3 linked regions of the Homo sapiens genome follow. The protein of the gene in region 2 interacts with the protein of the main gene of each other region in a biochemical or structural test. Each region holds a gene or a part of one and is shown on either strand. Other genes may lie near its edges.

What was found. Proteins that work in one complex are often made in the same cells at the same time.
Region 1: the proteins of KHDRBS1 (region 2) and LYN form a complex in vitro, tested with the Homo sapiens proteins (3 studies listed by BioGRID and IntAct, with this or other methods).
Region 3: the proteins of KHDRBS1 (region 2) and NCK1 form a complex in vitro, tested with the Homo sapiens proteins (3 studies listed by BioGRID, with this or other methods).

What each region holds. Positions count from the first base shown.
Region 1 is NC_000008.11:56,008,835-56,014,669, forward strand, and holds the end of LYN (tyrosine-protein kinase Lyn), read left to right. Parts: intron 1-1,073; coding exon 1,074-1,276; 3' UTR 1,277-5,335; downstream 5,336-5,835. UniProt on the Homo sapiens protein: Non-receptor tyrosine-protein kinase that transmits signals from cell surface receptors and plays an important role in the regulation of innate and adaptive immune responses, hematopoiesis, responses to growth factors and cytokines, integrin signaling, but also responses to DNA damage and genotoxic agents.
Region 2 is NC_000001.11:32,009,065-32,016,934, reverse strand, and holds the start of KHDRBS1 (KH domain-containing, RNA-binding, signal transduction-associated protein 1), read right to left. Parts: upstream 3,068-7,870; 5' UTR 2,940-3,067; coding exon 2,558-2,939; intron 1-2,557. UniProt on the Homo sapiens protein: Recruited and tyrosine phosphorylated by several receptor systems, for example the T-cell, leptin and insulin receptors. Once phosphorylated, functions as an adapter protein in signal transduction cascades by binding to SH2 and SH3 domain-containing proteins.
Region 3 is NC_000003.12:136,949,208-136,952,106, reverse strand, and holds the end of NCK1 (SH2/SH3 adapter protein NCK1), read right to left. Parts: 3' UTR 501-2,899; downstream 1-500. UniProt on the Homo sapiens protein: Adapter protein which associates with tyrosine-phosphorylated growth factor receptors, such as KDR and PDGFRB, or their cellular substrates. Maintains low levels of EIF2S1 phosphorylation by promoting its dephosphorylation by PP1.

The sequences.
Region 1 (5,835 bases), on a different chromosome or scaffold from region 2:
GTGAAGTAGCTCCACTTGAGACTATGATTGGGGTTCAGTTTTCCTCCTCAATTAATATCTTGCTCTTAAAAGACAGTGACATCCACAAGATATGTAGCACAAACTACAGACAAGTGTCCTTCAGATTAACTGAACCATCATTATTTTCCAAATTAATCCCTAAGTTTTTAACTATTTGGCAAGCATGTAACCAATTTGTTGGGCTGACTTAAGGGTGCTGACTTTAAGTAAATGAAAATACCAATTATTAAATGAAAAGCCAATTTTTGAAAAATGTCCGTATAAGATAATATGTGGTAAAATTATTTTTTTCATAAATATACTACAAGTTGAAGCTGAAAGCATGCTACCCTGCAAACATAATTAAAGTTGAGAGTTAGGATTAGATTTGGGTGATTTATTTGAAATGTGAGGCAAGTCCAATATCCTTTTGTTATTAAAGAGAACTTGGCTGTGGCTCCTACTTAACAAATTTTGGCAAACTGAATGCTGTCTTGATCCCCTCCATGCTAAATTTATTTATTGAGTTGCTTGCAGAAATTTCCTTAGCTTCTATATTAGTTGGCAAGGGCTGCCATAACAATACAACACACTGGGTAATTTAAACAACAGACGTTTATTTTTCCGGGGTTCTGGAGTTTCAAAGTCCAAGGTCAAGGTGCTAGCCAGGTTGATTTCTCCTGAGGCCTCTCTCCTGGACTTGTAGATGGCTGCCTCCTCCCTGTGTCTTCACATGGTCTTTCCCCTATACTAGTCTGTGTTCTAATCTCCTCTTATAAGGATACTAGTCATATTGGATTAAGACCTACCCAAATGGCCTCATTTTAACTTAGTTACCTCTATAAAGGCCTTATCTCTAAATATGGTGCTGTCAATTCTGAGGTGTACGCGGGGTTAGGACTTCAACCTAGGAATTTTGGGAGGATGCTGTTCAACCCCTAACAGCCTCAGTAAAGCTTGTTTCAATCATGGTTACAGGATGTGAGGAGCAAAAAGACCACTGCAGTGCTTGACCCTCTGCCAGGTTTCTAAACGGCATGGGTTTCTGTTCTTTTTGTTTTTTTCCACCCTAGGGAGAACTAATGCCGACGTGATGACCGCCCTGTCCCAGGGCTACAGGATGCCCCGTGTGGAGAACTGCCCAGATGAGCTCTATGACATTATGAAAATGTGCTGGAAAGAAAAGGCAGAAGAGAGACCAACGTTTGACTACTTACAGAGCGTCCTGGATGATTTCTACACAGCCACGGAAGGGCAATACCAGCAGCAGCCTTAGAGCACAGGGAGACCCGTCCATTTGGCAGGGGTGGCTGCCTCATTTAGAGAGGAAAAGTAACCATCACTGGTTGCACTTATGATTTCATGTGCGGGGATCATCTGCCGTGCCTGGATCCTGAAATAGAGGCTAAATTACTCAGGAAGAACACCCTCTAAATGGGAAAGTATTCTGTACTCTTAGATGGATTCTCCACTCAGTTGCAACTTGGACTTGTCCTCAGCAGCTGGTAATCTTGCTCTGCTTGACAACATCTGAGTGCAGCCGTTTGAGAAGAAAACATCTATTCTCTCCAAAAATGCACCCAACTAGCTCTATGTTTACAAATGGACATAGGACTCAAAGTTTCAGAGACCATTGCAATGAATCCCCAATAATTGCAGAACTAAACTCATTTATAAAGCTAAAATAACCGGATATATACATAGCATGACATTTCTTTGTGCTTTGGCTTACTTGTTTAAAAAAAAAAAAAAACTAATCCAACCTGTTAGATTTTGCAGGTGAAGTCAGCAGCTTAAAAATGTCTTTCCCAGATTTCAATGATTTTTTTCCCCCTACCTCCCAAAATCTGAGACTGTTAAAACATTTTTCTTCTATGAACACTGCTCAGACCTGCTAGACATGCCATAGGAGTGGCGTGCACATCTCTCTCTCTTCCAGCAGGAGGAGCCCGTGAGCACGCACAGCTGCCCTGTCTGCTCACCCGAAGGCACCGGGCTCACCTGGACCTCCCAGGAAAGGGAGAAGAGCCTCAGAAACTGCTCTGTGTTTAGAAGGAATATTTTTAAGAGTCCAGCTTTTTCATTTCCACAATTTCCTATATCCAGATTTGTTTTGACAATGTAGTTTGGAAGAACTAAGATTCTAATCTCTGAAGAACCTTATAGGGCCTTCTAAAACATAAGAGTTTCCTTTGTTGCTTCAAATATTTGAACATTATGTTAAAGATCAAGTATTAATTTTAGTTGTACTCTAGAAAGCTAAAGTGCCACATTCGGGGCTATTTTTATGATTCAGCAATCTTTTCTAAATTGTGTAGCATGTGTATGAGACTATTTATACCCAAGGATATGAAGGAACATAAGTGACTACAAGGCTCTAATAAGCCACGGTGGCAGGAGGTTCAAGCGGTTCTGTTCACTAAATTTTTCTCCTGTAAGCTTTGAATGGAAACTTCTGTATCACATGATGTGTTTCACTTATGCTGTTGTGTATATACCTAATATTTCTATTTTTGATTTTATTTTAATACACCTCGTCCAATAACATCTCAAGCTTTTTATTTGCATTTACATTTTCAGCTGTGGTCAGTGTAAAAATTGGTCATCAGCTGGGGGCGGGGTGGTTAGAAGTGATTCAACAGAGCTACATGCTTTAAACTTGCCCAAGTTCTACCTCCTTCCTTTGAACATTTCAGATTGGAGAACCAAGGAGTTGATTGCCTGAACACCTGAACATCCGTTTATGGGGGCCAGATAGAATTTGTTTTCAAATAGGCTTAACAGGCATCATTAAAATTTCATTCTGTGTGTTTTGTTTAGGCTTGAGGTGCTTAGAAGATGGGATAAAATATTCTACTTTTTTCTAAATTTTAACTTTGTTTCCTATGTGATTTTTTTAAATGTCCTTTCTAAAATATTCTAAAATTATTGATTCACAAGTGCCATGTTCAGAACTATAGAATATTACTGTTACATAATGTCTGCACAGCTGGTCCCTTGATTCAGTGGTAAGGTTTTTGTGTACACCCCCCTGCTTGCATTTTATTTCAGAACCACAAGTATTACCCAATATGTTACATGGAGAGGAACTATAAAGAATCCCTAAGGCAAAAAGAAGTCTCTAGAAAATGACTAGAGGTTTTTTTTTTAGCATAACAAATTTATTTAAAGAAAATTATTAAATTTATCTTCGCCTTGTTTTGCTTCTCCCAGTTCCTCCTCTTCTTGCCATTTTCCACTTGTCTTTCCCTCCCAATCAAGCCTGTGATCCTTACCTCCATGTGGGCCCTTCACCAGCTTGGGCCTCATCTCTGGTGTCCAGCATGTGTGGAAGTCACACGTTCCCTTGATGAACAGCACACACAGTCTCCTTACTTAGCTATAGGTTTCCAGCCTCCCTGTGACAGACAGGCATAATGAGGGGCTGAATAGGTGTTTGTAGCATTTTCGGGTATCCAGTGGTGTGCAAAATGGCTCATGTCATCACACCTCAGGTTATTGTAGAGAACTGGAAAGACAGAATCCATACTCCCTACCGCCAAGATTCTGACTTAGCTGTTGTGCAGCGGGAGATGTATGTCAGTCTATTTTAAAAGCTTCTCCAGTCAGCTAGACACAGTGGCTCATGCCTGTAATCTCAGCACTTTGGGAGGCTAAGGCAGGAGGATCGCTTGAGCTCAGGAGTTAGACACCAGCCTGAGCAATATAGCAAGTCTCTACAAAAAATTTTAAAAATTAGCTAAGTGTGGTGGCACATACCTATGGTCCCAGCTACTCAGGAGGCTGAGGTGGGAGGATTGCTTGAGCCCAGGAAGTCAAGGCTGCAGTGAGCTATGATCGTGCCACTGCACTCCAGCCTGGGCAAGAGTGAGACCCTGTCTCAAAAAAAAAAACCAAAAAAACAAAAAAACCCTTCCCTGGTGAATATAATGTATGCTCAGTCTTGAGAGTCACCATTTGGTTTGACCCATATTACAAAGCCCAGCCTTCTTTTTCCTCAGATGGTTTCATTTCTCAAAGGGGAGTGGAAGAGAAGGAAGGAGGAAAAAAACGTGCCTTCCTTCCTGGTGAACATGAAGCTCACTGAACCTAAAGGAGACTCACAGGCTAGAAACCAGTGTCCTTAGTAGTAGGGGCCACCTGGGGCTTCCGTGGCTTCTCCAGGCATACCTCCTGAGGTTCCACAGAATCCCCTTGCAGAAAGTACTTCTGATGAGCCACTGGGAACGTGTACTGTCCAAGCCCCCTTCTAGGGGAAATTCACTGCCACAGAAGCCAGCAGCCCTGGCTGTCCCAAGGGTGCATAAAAGGATAATAACTAAAAGGAGGGAATTAATTTTGTTGCCTACACCAGGGATAGATCGAGGGCACTGAAAGCATCATAAGTATAAACTCATCTCCACGTCAGCTTGTGGAGTCTGCTTTCTCGCTCTCTCTTTTTTTTTTTTTTTTGACAGAGTCTCACTCTGTCACGCAGGCTAGAGTTGCAGTGGTGCGATCTCAGCTCATTGCAACCTCCCCCTCTCTGGTTGGAGCGATTCTTCTCCTGCCTCAGCCTCCCTAGTAGCTGGAACTACAGGCACACACCATCTCGCCTGGCTAATTTTTGTATTTTTAGTAGAGATGGGGTTTCACCATGTTAGCCAGGCTGGTCTCGAACTCCTGACCTCAGGCGATCCGCCTGCCTCGGCTTCCCAAAGTGCTGGGATTACAAGTGTGAGCCACTGTGCCCGGTCGGGGTCTGCTTTCTCTTTATTCCCCGTCCTCTCACAAACTACATCCAGGGGCGGTAGCTGCTAAAAGGACTCAATTCTGCAACCTCAGCTTCTGACACCTTCAAATAAATTAAATGCTGGTCCTAGGGCTCGCTCCCCAGCTCTTCTGATGTCACTGCCAGGTTCCACAGCCAGTTGTCGGACATCTCCTGCTTCCTCAGCCAAGAACACCTCTCAGATGAGATCAAACCGCCCAGCTTTCCTCTTAGCATCTTCCTTTATTTTCCACTTCTGGCTGGTGGAAGAGAGATCGTAGTTCTCTATTCCCTACATTTTAACTCCACGAATATTTTAGATTAAGTGAAGTCTTGCTGTTCTTCCTGATGGAAATGGTAATTATAAACATACAAAGATACCCATACACACATTCTTTACTCAGGGCCCTCTTGTGCTTTGGCAAATGATAAAAATTATCTCTAACTCACACAACGACCCTGGAAGATCTGGACAATGCTATCACTATTTCACAGCTGAGAGATCGGGAGCATTTAAAGCCACAGAAGGAATAGATTGGCTTCGCTTCATATTGTTTCCTTGTGAAATAAAACCAGTGAAACACCTTTGTGTAGAATCTCCCTGACTCAGCTGAGTGTTCTGAGTAAGCAAGGGTATTACTTACAAGATGCACCATTTGAGCCCACACAGATGGGAGGGGAAATTTTTCCTTAAGTAATTTTATTTGGGTAGAAAAGTAATGCAAGAATTTAACTTACCATTCACACTTTTAAAGACAATTTGTAGAGACTACACTTCAGAATAAAATGTTTTGGCCAGCTACAGTGGCTCACACCTGTAATCACAATACTTTGGAGGGGCTGAATCAGGACGATCACTTGAGGCCAGGAGTTTGAGACCAGCCAGGACAACATTATGAGACCCTGTCTCTACAAAAAAAAAAATTAAGTTTCAGTAGCATTTATGTTCCATTTCATAACATGAATGTTACTAAAACTGATAAAAATTTTATCCTGAAAAGTTTTAACTTGATAGACGTGTAAGAGGAAAGCCTTCCAATTTAATTTCCTGTGTGCTGATAAATCTATTAAATACTTCAAGTCAG
Region 2 (7,870 bases):
TATGTATTATTTCGTGAAATATTTAATAAGAGGCCACTCTGTGCAGCACTCTTCAAGGCATAGAAGATACAACGGTGAACAAAGTAGACAAAAGATTCCTGCGCTCTGGTGGAGCTGACATTCTAGCCATGGAGAATGGGTAATCAACAAACAAATACTGTACATAACGACAATATAGTGCAACAGATGCTGATAGTGAAAAATAAAGTAAACCCAGGAAAGGAAGAGGAGAGCTGTGTAGGTGGTACAGGAAGAGTGCTCAGGGTCTCACGGTACCTTATTGGGAATGGTCAAAGGTGCCTGGAGGAGCCACAGTCCCAAGCAGTAGACTCTGCTCTCTGGTTTCCTTTCTGTATCTTAGCCTTATCATCTTCACTGCCCTGTTAACACTGTGATACTTTCAAATATACTTTTTTTTTTTTGGTCACCTATCATCCCAGATAGATTTTAATATTTTGTCCAACTATAGCTTAAAGTACAATTTGCAGCAGGCACTATAGTGAGGGAACGGGGAAGGTGTGTAGACTGACCAAAAATCCTGGTTACGATGCTTACTAATTTTGTTACCTTAGGCAAATTATTAATCTCTGGGTGTCTTGGTTTCCTCATCTGTATAAGTGAGGATAATAAAAGTAAGTTCTCATTTCATTTTATAGGTTAAATATTTAATGTAAAGTGCTCAGACCTCAAACATTAAGTGTTAGCTATATTTTTCTTCCGTGTGTTCTTTTCTTTTTTTTTTTTTTTTCCTTTTTTGAGATGGAGTTTAGCTCTTGTTGCCCAGGCTGGAGTGTAATGGCGCAATCTGGGCTCCCTGCAACCTTCGCTTCCCAGGTTCAAGTGATTTTCCTGCCTCAGCTTCCAAAGTAGCTGGGATCACAGGCGTGCGCCACCACGCGAAGCTAATTTTGTATTTTTAGTAGAGACGGGGTTTCACCATGTTGATCAGGCTGGTCTCCAACTCCTGACCTCGCGATCAGCCCGTCTCGGCCTCCCAAAGTGCTGGGATTACAGGCGTGAGCCACCGCGCCTGCCCCTTCCATGTGATCTTACCAGAGCTTAAATACTACTATTCTATCTTCTCAAAGTCTCACTTCCGCACAATGGGTTGTGACTTCACTGCAATCCCCTTGCAAGATAATTCAGAAATACCTTAAAAGCCAGGCTCAACATATATTAACACTTATCCATGCTAGAAAGAATTCATACATCCCAAACCAACAGTAACCTCAATCACATTTCTCCAATTTCAGTTGGGTTTAAAAAAAATACATCCAGAAAGCCCAAGTTAAAAATAAAGAGCACTCTCTTAGTTAAGCAGTGAGGGGAGACTGAAAATTAAAAGTAACTTTTAAGGATCAACAGTTTTTGACAGTTATCTTAAGAAAGCATAAAAGATGAACACCACACTGGTAAAGATCCCTTACCTTACAGTGTTGGGAGACAGAGAACAAAGGGAGGGAGATAATATTTTCATAATGAACTGTCCATTATATTAACCTTGCCAAAGAGTCCAACTACTCATTCAGTGTTGAAGGATGTGAATTTTTACTTGCTTAGTAAAATTTAGGTATCATAAAAAATATTAAAATAATATTTTAACTAGAAGCGAAAGTCAGACAGCTTTAGGGAAAAATCAGAGCGACTAGGTGATTGGCCAGTGCTGATGAGGAAAAGAGCGCTAACCTACAGAACAAAGACTCTCATTTCTAATCTATTTCACTACTGAATCAAAAATGTAAAAAACAGCAACAAAAAGGCCAAGCCTTTCAGTACAAGCATCATGCAACTTCTCTCAATTTCTGTCCATCTCGTTGGGAAACGTCATGTGAACTACGCGGGAGTCCCTATCGTCCCATTTCACTGTCTCTAGGGTTACTTCACTCCTTCAACGACAGTGAACACACGGTGTAAAATGGCTCAGTAGCAATTCTTATTTTATCAGCCTTAGTCGGAAATCTGATTCGGAAACCTCAAGCTCCGATCCACATAAATCGCTCCTTCCTCCCAGCAACTTAAGCTGCGGTTACCGCTAAGTCCGGCTCGGCCCCAGCGACAGCAAGGCACTGGACAGGGCATTCCAGCCTCACCCCACCTCACCTCGGCCCTTCCTCCCACGGTCCCTCCCCGCTCTGGCTGTCTTCACCTCCTACACCTCGGTCGAGGCGCTCATCGCCACCCGCGATCAAAAAGGGTTTCCCTTCAGGGAAAGGGGGAAATGAAGGTTCATTTCTGGAAGAATCTGCGCGCCCGGCAGCCGCAAGAGGAGGGAGGAGGGAAGAGTCGGGAAAGGGGCGGGGAGCTCAGCACTATCCATCAAGACATTAGCGCTAGGGGATCGCAAAGTCGCCTTCGGGCCTCCACTGCAGCCTAGAAATTCTCCCACGCACTCCGGGCTGAGGTGGGAATGTGGAATCCAGGCTCCCAAAAATGAGGATGAGACCGGAACTCCCGACTGCCTCGGTCCCGAGGGGGCGGGAAGCGAGAGGAACAAAGCCAGGGCCACTCATGCCCGGGATGGCCGGGCGACCCAGAGGGACACGGGAGGCCCCCTTACCTGCCGTCAGCAGCTGCATGGCGTGAGTGAAGGACGGGTCGAGCGAGTCCTTCTCGGCCATGAGTTCGGGCAGGTACTTGTTCTCTGGCTCCATCTTGACCGAGGCTGTGGCCGAGGGGGGCAGCAGCGGGGTCGGCGCTGGCCCGCCCACTGTCGCGTCGGGACCCGTGGCCGAGGGCGGCAGCAGCGGTGGCGGCTGCGTGGCGGGCGAGGCCCGGGCGCCCCCGCGGGATCCCCCTCCGCCTCCCCGGGACCGGTGAGGCAGCGGCGGCTGCCGAGACGGCGTCTGACGCACCGAGGGGTGGGCACCGGAGGGGTCCATGGAGCCGCTACGGCCCGAAGACCGGCTCATGCGCGCGGCGGGGTCGTCCCGGCGCTGCATCTGGGAGGATGTGCGATCCAAGGAGCGAGAAAGCGACGCGGCAGCGACGGAGGCCCGAGCGGCGGTTGGCGGGGGTGGCAGAGCGGGAGCGGTAGCGACCGAAGCCGACCCGAGCGACCCAGCGAGAGAGAGCACCGGAAATGAGGCGGCGCGCGTGCGCAGCCAGCCACCGGCACCGCCCTTGGGTTTCTCCGCGGAGAACAAAGTCCCCAGTCCGGCCACGGCGCCTGCGCACCGCCGCGGCGTCCGAGAAGTCGCCTCCCGACTCTGGCTTTCCCTCCGCTCCCGCCAGGCCAGAGCTTGATGCGCATGCGCGGGAGGCAGTGGGCTCCGTTCGTTTCGTTTTCCACGTGACTCGGCGCTAGCGGAACACGTGTCTCCTCCCCTTTCTGGCGTGGAGGGGGCGGGAGCTGTGGAATGTCTTTGTCTGCGCGCGGGCCCGCGGAGTGTGGGGCGGGAGACCTGTTACTCGCGGGGCCACGCCCTCTCCAACGGCTGAGCAGTGGAGGGAGGCTGTGGGGAGTGGGGTGGGGGGCGGTCACCGAAGTAAGGAAGTAAAAGACTGCCGAGAGGGTCACGGAAAGGGGAGGGAGAGAGAATTGAGACCGCCTGGGGAGGAAGACAGGAGTGAGACAGACTGCACAGGGAGAAAGGAAGGCTGAGGGAGAGTCTGATGCAGGGGGAAAGTTGGGGAAGGGAAACCTGGAGGGAGAAATTGAGGAAGGACGGCTTGGTGGAAACACTGAAGGCGATTGGAGTACTTGAACTAAGAGGGATGGTTCAGATCAGAGATCTGAAGTCTAGCAAAGAAAAGGGTCCCAGACATCAGGGAACACAAGAAGTTGTTTCCAGTATATATATTTCCAGTATTACATATATTCCAGTCGGTTCTAAAACGGTTGACATTGTTGGTACGGGAAATCTTAAGCAGCATTTTAGCTCTTTTTACATATTTTACTGCTTTTTCTGAATTGTGTTTGTTTTGTTTCGCCGTCATTATTGCCAATTAAGTGTTTCTTCCTTCAAAAAGTGAGGTAGAGACCAGATCCTTAATCCACGTTGGTTGCATCATTAGGATGGCTTCTTCTACCACTCCAGACTTGCTCAAAGAGACCCTTGCCACTACTCTCAAAGGCAAGGTACATAGTGGACAGTCGCCTACGACGTTCTCCACATCCTGGTGTGCTATATGCAAGTGGAGCCTTAGGTCCCTACTTGTCCCATAAGCCATCAAAAGCCTGGTGCCCTCTCTAACTTTCCCTTCCCTCCGCAGATTATTTTCTTCTTCCATTTAAAGCACTCACTCCCATCTCTTTTCCTTCTGGATTAGTTCTCCTAATGAGCCCACACTTTTCAAAAGTCTTTGGGGACCGGTGCGGTGGCTTATGCCTGTAATCCCAGCACTTTGGGAGGCCTAGGTGGGAGGATTACTTGAGGCTAGGAGTTCGAGAGCAGCCTGGACAATATAATGAGACCTCATCTCTACAATAAAAAAAGTTTCCGCCCGGCTTGGTGGCTCATGCCTGTGATCCCAACACTTTGGGAGGCCGAGGTGGGCAAATCACCTGAGGCCAGGAGTTCGAGACCAACTTGGCCAACATGATGAAACCCCATCTTTACTAAAAATATAAAAATTAGCCGGGTGTGGTGGTGCATACCTGTAATCCCAGCTACTTGGGAGGCTGAGGCAGGAGAATTGCTTGAACCAGGGACGCGGAGGCTGCCGTGAGCCGAGATCACGCCACTGCACTCCAGCCTGGGCAACAGAGCGAGACTACGTCTCAAAAAAAAAAAAAAAGGAAAAAAAGGTTTATTTGGAAATTGTCTTCTGAGTGCCTGGAAACTTGATTTTTGGATGTGAAGCTTAGAACCCTTTAACTAGAGAACCTAAAGGCCTTCTTTAAGGGGTTAAGGGAGAGGATTTCCAAATTACCCACAGAAATGAAAACAAAACACGTATCTACATAAATTATATATATATAATATAAAATATAGGCCAGATGCGATGGCTCATGCTTGTAATCCCAGCACTTTGGGAAACCGAGGCGGGCAGATCACAAGGTCAAGAGATCGAGACCATCCTGGCCAACATTGTGAAACCCCGTCTCTACTAAAAATACAAAAATTAGCTGGGTGTGGTGGTGTGCCTGTAGTCCCAGCTACTCAGGAGGCTGAGGCAGAAGAATCGCTTGAACCCAGGAGGCGGAGGTTGCAGTGAGCTGAGATTGCAGCACTGCACTCCAGCCTGGGGGACAGTGCGAGACTCTGTCTTGGGAAAAAAAAGAAAGAAAGAAAGAAATTAGCTGAGTGTGGTGGCGTGCACCTGTTGTCCCCAGCTACTTGAGAGACTGAGGTGGGAAGATTGCTGCTTGAGCCTGGGAAATTGAGACTACAGTGAGCAACGACTGCCCCACTGCACTCAGCCTGGACGACAGAGTGAGACCTTGTCTCAAAAAAAAAAAAAAAAAAAAAAAAAAAAAAAAAAAAAAGGCCAGTGCGGTGGCCCACTCCTGTAATCCCAGCACTTTGGGAGGCCAAAGTGGGTAGATCACCTGAGGTCAGGAGTTCAAGACCAGCCTGGCTAATACAGTGAAACCCCATCTCTACTAAAAACATAAAAAAGTTAGCTGAACGTGGTGGCATGCACCTGTAATCCCAGCTACTTGGGAGGCTGAGGCAGAAGAATTGCTTGAACCCGGGAGGTGGAGGTTACAGTGAGCCGAGATCGCGCCACACTGCACTCCAGCCTGGGCAACAGAGTCAGACTCCGTGTCAAAAAGAAAAAAGAAACGAAAAAATTAAGTGCTGTTGGAGTTCAATGCAGAAGATAGATTTTGGCCAAGGAAGAATAAGTTCCAGGCAAAGGGAAGTGGAATAAATGAGCAGAGATGAGAACGTGGGAAATGTGTTCAGGGAATGGGAGTAATCCAGTGTCAGACTTGAAGGAATAGGTGGGTTGAGAGAGCAACTGCATGAAGAGGGGGGAAGGGGCAAGGAGAATTTACAGTTCCTTTGCAACTCATTTCCACTGCCACCCTTGAAGATCCTTCTTGAGTGGTGGTGTTACAAATGGCTGAAGCGTCCTTGCCCTGTAATGAGATGCCCAAATAGAGATCCCTTGAGCTGAGGCTAATAAAACTTTGATAAAGGTTTGTCTGAGAAGGAGCTGGGTAGTGGTATCTATGGCCTTTCTAGACTAGAATCAACAGTTACTGCATATGTATATCAAAACATGTTGTAGCCATACCTATATACAATTTTAAAAACACTGGAAACAAAACAAAAAATAACCCTCAGTCTTTCTGGGTGCTTGCCAGATCTTTACTTGCTTTCCCTGAGAGTAGGCTGAGCGGGAGAGATGTGCTCTTCTTCCAGGCGAGAACCCTAAAGGTAATCTCAGGCCAAGAGTGGTTGAGGTTGCGGTGTATGTATCCACTAAGTGATGCAGCAGCCTTCTATTTTGGGGGCCCTTCTCAGGGTAGGGAAGAGTAATTTCTGCTCTGAAAGCCTAGAAGTCTGGAGTTTATTTTGTGTTCACCACAGTATGCTGCCCCAGGTCCACCTGAAGGTTAACAACCATGTGAAAAGACTAACGTTGGAGTGGGGCAAATTCAAACAACCCGGCAATGCCTTGTCCTCACTGTGTATCATTTGGAAGACCTCTGAAACTTAGTTTTCTCTTCTATAAAGTGGGGTAATGCCATCTACCTTGAAGGCTTATTGTGAACATTAACAAATATCAGTGTAAACCTCCTGATAGTAGGGCTTATAAACAGAAGTAATCACTATTATACCCTTTAGTACCTGATGAAGATTTGTGGGTGCTTTATGTTGGCTATGGATCTGAAAGTCCTACTCTCTCTCTCCTTTTTTTTTTTTTTTTTTTTTTTTTTGAGATGGAGTCTTGCTCTGTCACCCAGGCTGGAGTGCAGTGGCAGGATCTCAGCTCACTACAAGCTCCACCTCCTGGGTTCACGCCATTCTCCTGCCTCAGCCTCCCGGGTAGCTGGGACTACAGCTCACCACCATGCCCAGCTAATTTTTTTGTATTTTTAGTAGAGACAGTGTTTCACCGTGTTAGCCAGGATGGTCTCGATCTCCTGACCTCATGATCCGCCCGCCTCAGCCTCCCAAAGTGCTGGGGTTACAGGCATGAGCCACCGCGCCTGGCCAAGTCCTACTCTCTAATCTGTATAATTTTCACTGAGTATAGCTAGGCTTGTTTTGGGGGGAGGAGGAGGTTCCAAAAAGAGCAAGTTTCTTCTACCCTTAATCCAGTTACTATGGTATAGGATACAGCAGCAGTGCATAATGGTTCAGATGGAGGTTGGTAGCTCTGCCTCTTACCTGCTGGGTGATTGAGCACAGTGTTTTGCTTTGCTGCATTAGTCAGGATTCTTTAGAGAGACAGAATAAATACAGTATATAGATAGATGTACACATTCAAGAGGGGACTTGTGAGGGCAATTGGTTCACATGATTATGGAGGCTGAGAAGTCCCATTGGAGGCCTTCTGCAAGCTGGAGACCCTGGCAAGCCGGTCGTGTGGCTCAGTCCAAATCTGAGATCCTCAGAACCAAGGAAGCCAGTGGTGTGATGCTTAGAGGATGAAGGCCTGAGAACCCAGGGGCTGCTGGTGTAAGTCCTGGAGTCCAAGGGCTGAAGAGCATGGGGATCTAATGTCTAAGGACAGGAGAAGAAGAGTGTCCTAGCTCCAGGAAGAGAGACAGGAAATCCCTTCTTTGCCTTTTGTGTTCATTCTGGGCCCTAGCCCATTAGCTGGCGCCCGCCCACATTGAGGGCGGATCTGTACCATTCAGTCCACTCACAGGCCACTCTCTTCTGGGAACACACTCACAGACACACCCAGAAATAATGCTTTATCAGTCCTCTGGGTATTCCTTAATCCGGTGAAGTTGACACCGAAAATT
Region 3 (2,899 bases), on a different chromosome or scaffold from region 2:
CCATGTTATAGGAAAAACAGGGAGAGTAAACTGCATCTGGAGATCTCAACTAGGGGGATAAGGGTTGGGAGTGTGAAAGTTAATTATACAAATTGGGTAATTATTGTCATACCCAACCAAATCAGATTCAATGCATTAAGGGGAAAAAGTACATGAAGGACATAGCAGCTGCTCCAAGAACTCAGTTTTCCACAAGCCCAGCTACTTAAACAGACTACTGTAAACCCTAAGACCAGTTTTACCTAGTAGCTGCTGAAATGACCTGCTGTGACTCTAAGACTGGTTTTACCTATCACTGTCACACACCAATCAGAGCTTGCCACCTCCCAAAAACTTATCTAGAACCAATGAGTTTTCTTTCAAAACATACGTAACATTTCTCTTTATAATAAAACTCCCCATCTTCTCTGTTCTTTAGACATACCAAAAACTACTGTCTGTGTATATGCCCTGAATTACAATTCTTGCTTCCCAAATAAAACGTTTCAGAGATTCGTCTCTATATTTTGACTTGAAAGAAGACTTTATTATACTGTTTGAATTTTTTCACCATGTGCACTGGTAAAGATAAGAGGACCATCCATATTAGATTCCAGCTCATTGTTGACTTGTGGGAATTCAACTCATGTTATTAGCTTCTCATTTTTAAAGGGAAACAAGAAGTCTGAATTTTATGTGAAACTCCCTGATTTTTAAATGTTGGCAATTAATTTTTTAAAGCACTGTGTGGGTTGAACAACATTTCTGTATAAGGCCACTGTGTTTAGATGTACCCTGAAGAAGGTACCCCAGCAACAAGGTGGGAGTGAAATTCAAACTTCTAGAGAAGGGCTGGGCCTGCCTAGAGAATTCTCACAAACGTGCTACAGAGACTGTGACAACTCTGCTTCTATGCAACCTCTGGATTATATGGTAGGACATTACAGCTGGAGATAATTTAAGTGCCATATTCTGCAAGAATGACCTTATTCTAACAACCCAAGTTGCCCATCTGCTAGGCCTATTTATTCTTCTAGCAATGGCAATAGATTGCATGAAGCCTATTTTGTTTAGCAGTATTATTTGTCACTAATAGTGCAAGGTGCATGTGTTAACTGTATAGTGATATATGTGTAATATACATGTGTGAATATATATTCAGCTGAATCCTAAGGTTTTATGACTAAATAAGGGACACAATGGCATTTGTTTTTGTCACAAAGCTTATATCATGTTCTAAAAAACCTTCTAAGATTTTGGGGAAGTTATTTGTAGAAGTGAGTTAGGCAGGGTTCCATCTGACACATGTATTTAAATTTGAAACTAAGCATTCTCCTCATGTGGAAGAAAACTTCTGTAATATTGCCCTTCCCAGGACTCTCCTCCTAGTCTAAAACCAAGCATACACAGAGTAGTGTGTCACGATACAGACACCAGGCTGGGAATAAGGAAACTTGGTTTCTTATACAAGTATTGTTACTATCTAGCTATGTAGAGTTTTCCAGGGTTGTTTCAGTTCTTAAAGTTACTTCAAGTATTATAAAAACAGTCACTGGTATAAGCATTGGATTAAGACTTTTTAAAAATTGGTAAAATATTTAAGTACAAAATAAGTAGCTTCCAGCGAGGTTTTTATACCATAGTAAGAGCACACAATAGATATTACTAGCACACATGGGTTATCTGGGAGCGCTATAGCTACAATAAACCTAATTATGGAACAGAAATTTGCATTCTGTTTCCAGTGCTACTACACTCCTACTTTCTCAAAAGTCTGCTCTATTAATATCAGCTCAGTGCAGTTTACTATGAATAGTTTATGTCTGTGATGCAAAGCATTAATTGTTCTCTTTTTACAAACATACATTTTTTTCATAAGGAAGACTGGGGGAAAACCCAGAAACATACAGAGAAAAGGAAAGCATCATCAAATATATGTTAAAAATTAAGATGATGTTTACTACTAGTCATCCTACAACAATTTAAAGTTTTCCTCAATTTATATTCATTTGATTTTACAGCAAAGATAAGCATACATGATTTTTATTTCCATTAAAAACTTAACTACTAATAATTACCCTCAACAAAGGAGTACTGAGTTAGAAAAATAATAGAATATGAACTAAAATGTTTTAAAAGCAGATGTAATAGAGATGAAAATTTGTCTTAATTATATTTGGTCACTTCTGTTGCTTAGTGGGAGAAGCCATGGCTGCCACCCAGTGGCAACATAAGTCTTTAAATGATTTTAAGATTTAAATAATATTTAAAACATTGATAAAAAAAATTCACAAGTTACACAACTTCAATTTTACCATCAGTAATTCTGGCGTATTAGATATCTATTTATAACAGCAAAGAATTAAAACATCCATATGCTTAGGCAGCATTAGGGAATTTGTTGAAAGTATCATACGACATCCTACTCAGTTATGTGGCTTTAGTATTTTTCAATTAAAATACTGATGGCTACTTTACTTAAATTTAAATCTCCAGAATAATAGGGGGACAAATTATGACCATAAAATACAACTGGTTTTCTTCTATAGCCTACAGAAGCAGATTGGCCTCTTATCCATACACCCAAATTCCTACTTGGTTAAAAAACAAATTAAAAAATTAAAAATAATATAATTTTCCCTAACCATGAGCACATTCTATTTTTTCCTCAGGTATACATCAGTTTTAGTGTCCCAATCAACAAAACTTAAAGCTGAAAAGAGGAAATGAAAATAGGTAATACCATTCCTGACAATTACTGATATTTAGTGAGGAGAAAAAAACAAGTATCTCACTGCTTCCTGTTTTTGCAAAACTTGGCCATAACTTATTTCCCACTGGCATAAATATAACATGTCCTAATACAAGATGCTCTAGAGGTAAAATAATACAAGTGGGATTAAAAAAATAAATAACACTA